Regions from separate parts of the Homo sapiens genome. Here region 2 is linked to region 1. The links come from fine-mapping of genetic effects on gene expression. A gene starts in region 1. The other region holds a variant in brackets. All regions are shown on one strand. Distances are from middle to middle.

Region 1 (2,920 bases):
TTTGTGTATGACTTTTGACTACGCAAAAACTTAACTACTAATAGCCTACTGTTGACTGGAATTCTTAACAATAACATAAACAGTCTATTAACACATATTTTGTATTAAATATATTATATATTGGATTCTTACAATAAGGTAAACTAAAGAAAAGAAAATATTATTAAGAAAATCTTAAGGAAGAAAAGATATATTTACCAATCATTAGATGGAAGTGGATCATCGTAAAGGTCGTCATCCTCATCATCTTCATGTTGAGTAGGCCAAGGAGGAGGAGGAAAATAAGGTATCAGTCTTGCTGTCTCAGGAGTGGCAGAAGTGGAAGAAAATTTGTGTGTAAGAGAAGCCACGCGTGCAACCCGAAAGTGGACTTCCGGGTCACGGCGGAGCCGGCTCTCACGTGGAGGCGGGGAAGTTTGGCCCACCGGAAAGTAGACCTGGGCCCTGGGATCCCAGAGAAGAAAAAGAAGAAGAAAGTGGTCAAAGAACCAGGGACTCAATACTCAATTTTAAACAATGATGATTACTTTGCCCATGTTTCTCCTATAAAAGCCACAGCCCCCTCTAAGAGTGTGGTCCACGGGCAGGCACCTGAGATGCCTCTAGTGAAGAAAAAGAAGAAAGAGAAGGGTGTCAGCACCCTTTGCGAGGGGCACGTAGAACCTGAGACCACGCTGCGTGCCAGACGGACAGAGAAGTCATCCAGCCCAAGGAACCAGGTGCTTGGCCATTTGGAGTTCCTCAGTGGGCAGAAGAAAAGGAAGTCATCTCTGGCCATCTCCCATGCCTCTGGGGTGAAAATCTCCCCAGACCCCAGACAGGGTGAGGAGGAAACCAGAGTTGGCAAGAAGCTTAAAAAACTTAAGAAGGAAAAAAAGGGGGCCCAGGACCCCACAGCTTTCTCAGTCCAGGACCCTTGGTTCTGCGAGGTCGGGGATGCTGTGGACACTTGCTCAGTGGGGAAGGAGGGTGAGGAACAGGTAGCCTTGGGGCAGAAGCGGAAGCACAAGAGCCCCAGGGAACACGGTGGGAAGGCGAAGAAGAAAAAAAAATCCACCAGGAGGGAGACGCCCTCCCAAGCCACTCCAAGCCCTCCAGGTCCATGGAGAGCTGCCCTAGGAAACGAAGTAAAAAGAAGCCAGTCAAAGTGGAGGCTCCGGAATACATCCCCATAGGAGATGGCCCTAAAACCCCCGCGAAGAAAAAGATGAAGTCCAAGAAGAAGGTAAAGCAGCCAGTCATTGAGGAGCCGGCTCTGCAAAGGAAGAAAAAGAAAAGGAAAGAGAGTGGGGTAGCAGGAGACCCTTGAAAGGAGGAAACAGACACGGACTTGGAGGTGGTGTTGGAAAAGAAAGGCAACATGGACTAGGCGCACATAGACCAGGGGCGAAAGGCCTTGCAAGAAGAGACTGATCGCCAGTCAGGCAAAACGGAAGCTTCTGAAACCAGGAAGTGGACGGGAAGCCAGTTTGGCCAGTGGGATACTGCTGGTTTTGAGAACGAGGAACAGAAACTGAAATTTCTCAAACTTACGGGTGGCTTCAAAAACTTGTCCCCTTCGATTAGCCCCCACCCCCACCCCCACCCTCCCGCCCCACCCAGCCCGATTGCAAGGTCCAACGTGGCCCTCAGTAAGAAGGTGGCCGACAGTCTGCAGCAGAGCCTGCAGCGGGAATATGGCCTGGCCATGAGCTGAAAGTACAGCCGCGGAGCCGGCCTCGGCTTCTCCACCGCCCCGAACAAGATCTTTTATATTGACAGGAATGCTTCCAAGTCAGTCAAGCTGGAAGATTAAACTCTAAAGTTTCGTCTCCCCAAAACTGCCACAATTATCCCATTTATGCTGGAGGTTGCAAATTATTTTGTGTGAAAAGTCAGATCTTGGTAATGACCTTGAACAGTAGGATATAAATAACTCCCATAAGCTTAGCGTTCCAATAATGGAACACTAGGCATAAATGGGTTATTCAATTGTGAAGATGAATGCCATCTGACAGTTGGCTCACATTGAACACCTGTGGAGATTAAGGACAAGGACAACTATCTTGATGGGCTTGGACAAACTGGGGCGGGGCAGCTCATGTTTCCGGAGCCAGGAGAACAAGTGAGTGGCTAAAACCTCCTGTTTTCTGTTAAACATTCCGTCCCTGTCTGAGATATCAATATGTACAGATAACCTTTGTTGAGTGTTTACCAGGTGCTAGGCACATACTAGTGTTTTCCTTAATGTATTTAATCTTCATAATTATGAAATGGGTGCTATTATTATCCCCATCTTATAGATGAGGCAACTGAAGTTCAGGGATAAAGTAATAAAATTGCCTGGGGTCACCCAAACACTAAAAAAAAAAAAAAAGAGAAGCCACGCAGTTCAAACCTGTATTGTTCAAATGTCAACTGTGTATCAATAATTCCTTAAATGTGAATCGTCTAAATACACCAATAAAAGACACTATTGTCATAGTGGATAATGACAAGATACAACTATATGTTATCTACAAGAAACCCACTTTAAACTTAAACACTCAGGTTAAGAGTAAAGGGATAGAAAAAGATATATCATGCTAAAAGTAATCAAAAGAAAGCTGGAGTAGCTAAATGAATTTCAGACAAAGCCAACTACAGAATGAGCAACATTATCAGGAATAAAAAGGGGTACCACATAAGGATAAAGGGAACAATTCTCCAAGAAGACAACAATCGTAAACATGGAAGCATTACCAAGAGTGTCAAAATACATGAAAGAAGACTAATAAAAATGAAAAGAGAACTAGACAAATCCATTGTTAGAGGCGGGACTTCACCATCCCTGTGTCAATGTTATGGGTGGAGACTTCACCATCCCTTTGATAGAGCCAGTGGGCAAAAAAATCAAGGCTATAGATGACCTGAGCAGTATTATCAATCACCTTGATCTAAT
Region 2 (2,920 bases), 35 kb before region 1:
CGGCTCAATGCAAGCTCCGCTTCCCGGGTTCACGCCATTCTCCTGCCTCAGCCTCCCGAGTAGCTGGGACTACAGGCGCCCGCCACCGCGCCCGGCTAATTTTTTGTATTTTTAGTAGAGACGGGGTTTCACCTTGTTAGCCAGGATGGTCTCGATCTCCTGACCTCATGATCCACCCGCCTCGGCCTCCCAAAGTGCTGGGATTACAGGCGTGAGCCACCGCGCCCGGCCTATCTAACATTTTTTTAAACAAGGAAAACAAGGAATAAACATTTTACTTAGAAACACAGAATTGAAAGCAGTAGAAATGGAGTGGGTATAGTTGTCAATAGGACAAAAATGCTATTTTATTATATAGCCTTGGGTTTTATATTATGTGCATACATTATTTTAATGGTATCTAATTGATTAATAAAATACTCAGCTCAGGCATAAGTTGTCTTAGAAAACCTTCTCCAACCTCTCTTCGGTGCTCTCAAAATACTCTATCTGGGTTTATTTCTCTATCACTATACTTATCCCAATAACAAATAACCAGTTTCTGTTACTAGCTCCCCTATCAACTTGAAGTTCTCACAGACAAGTATCAAAATTTATTTATACAGTGTTCGTATCCCCTGGCAGAAATGAGACTTAAATTCAAATCTGAATTCAACAAATATTCACTGAGTTACAAGTAGAGAAAAGTAGTAATAAGACACAGGGTTCTGACTTCAAAGAATAAAGTTTATAACCATAAACTGCTATTGTATGCTGAGATTCATTATGTGCCGGAGATTTTTTTAAGTACCTTGCATTCATTCTATCATTAATTCCTCATAATGGCTTCATAAAGTAAATGTAATTATACCCATTCTGCAGATGAGGAATCAGACTCAGAGGGCTCAAGTAAATAACCCAGCTAGAAGGGAAAATCCAAAATAGCAGTGTTAATATTGAGCTACAGCATCGATGTCCCTTGACACAAACTCACAATATCTCTCAGGAGATAAGACATGCTCACAACATGATTACAATATGCTACAATAGATGCTGAAAGCCATAAAGATAGTTACAGATATAAGTGTCATAAGATCAGAGTGAGAGATATTCAGCTAGTATATTTGGTGAGAATGCTGTGAAAGAGTAAAATGTAATTTGGAAATTAAGGGATGGGCAGGATTTTAGAATATCTGTACGAGGGAGAAGCGTTGTACAAAAGGAAGACATAAAGAGGTGAAGGCAAGTATGTATATGTAGACACGAGGCACTACATGTTCTGTGTCAAATTTCTCCCCACCAGCAGAGTCCCCAGGAACTAGAAGTATGGATTTAAGCACCTACTTTTTAAAGCTGTGAAACATGGAAACACTGGGAGATGACCAGAGGGAGTATCCCAATAGGTTAGTGGAATGGGGATGGAGGGTGGTACAAAGCATCTGAAACAGCATGTTTGTTTCTGAAATCCTTCCTCTTGCCTTCCTCTCTAACACTACTGCTATAGTCCAAGCCACCATGTTTCTCTTGTGTGAATCATTTCAATAGCCTCCTTTCTAGCTCACCCAAATCCGTTCATTCCTGCCTCTCTTAAATGTGATCTACAGGCTGTAGGCACAAAT[T/C]TTATTGTCCTGAGAAACCTCAATGGGTTCTTCATCACCGTTATTATGAAGACTCAACTCTGTAACATAGCTGAAAAAGCTTAATGATCTGATCCCAATCTCTCTCTACAACCTCATCTCCATCTATTTCCCTTCCACTCTGCTTCAGCCATGCTGCCCTTCTAATTCTAAGAACACACTCTTTTCCCTCCCTCTTTGGAAACCTTACACATGCTATTCCTTTCACCTTGAAAGATTTTTTTCTCCTGTCCTCATTACCTCATTAGCCATCTTTAAAATGTGACATTTTCATGTAAGCATCCTCTAACTGCTCCTCCCTCAAATACATCAGAAACTTCTCTCATATGCTGTATAATCTTCTGTGAAATACAGTTCCACAATTTGCAATCATAAACGCTGATAATTATTTGATTAATGTTGATCTTCCCTAATAGACTTTAATTGCTTGTGTGCAAAGTGTGTGCCTGTTCCACACACCACTGAATCTCTAGCAGTTAACATGGTGTCTGGCTCATAGTAGGCACTCCAGAAATATTTATTGATTACTGAATGAATGAAGAAACAAAACAAAAAGAGAAAGCAAAAATACAGAGCAAAGTGGATTGGGAGCCAAGGAAAGTCAATTGACAAGGAGGTTTAAAGCAGATAGAAAGAGCAATCCTGGAAGAAATCCATGAGTCAGACAGGGCCAGGTGTCAGAAGTGGCTTTTGTGCACTGGCATGGCTTCTGTATGAGCATTCTGAGAAGAGTTAATAGGGCTGATGTGTTGCAGATAGTTTGGGAGTCATCTGAAAATCTCTGTTCAGCTTGAACCAGATCACAAGCAAATTATTCTTGAAAGGAAGGTCTCAAACATGAGCCTGAAAAGATAGTTGGAGACATTGAAGAAGCTCTTAGAAACCAGACTTAAGAATCTTAGTCGCATCCATGTGTGGTACCCAGGCACTCTGAATGTTGGAGAAATATTTCTAAATATTAACAGCATGTCAGGAGGATTGGCCTGATAGTGGTAAATAGAGCAGAGTCGAGGGAAAGATACTAGTTTGGGGAACTTGCAATGATTCAGGGTGAGAGGGGTGAATATAGAAGAAAGGGGAAAATGCAAGCATCATTTTGAGGGATGACTTAACAGGACTAAAAATATATTTTTCTATGTTACAATGAGCAAGAGCTCAGACTTCAGAATCAGTCCACTCTGGGTTCAAGTTTCAGCTATGCCGTTTGCTAGCTATGCTACTTTGAGCAAGCTCAGTTTCCTTGGCTGTATAATGGGACAGCATCTGTAACTATGTTAGAGTTATTAGGAAAATTCAATAAAAAT

Evidence for each region. PIP is the estimated chance that this variant, and not a neighbour inherited with it, causes the effect.
Region 2: its variant is fine-mapped to the expression of LINC00477 in testis (GTEx, PIP above 0.99).

What each region holds. Positions count from the first base shown.
Region 1 is chr12:24,582,758-24,585,677 of GRCh38, forward strand. It overlaps LINC00477 (long intergenic non-protein coding RNA 477), which reads right to left and starts at 1,411. Exons shown (of 4, transcript NR_029451.2): 1 at 199-1,411. It also overlaps the pseudogene KNOP1P1.
Region 2 is chr12:24,547,260-24,550,179 of GRCh38, forward strand. It overlaps a transcript of SOX5 not described here. Among named protein-coding and RNA genes, the nearest start is that of LINC00477, 35 kb to the right of the region's middle. The variant T/C (reference allele first, on the strand shown) is at 1,599.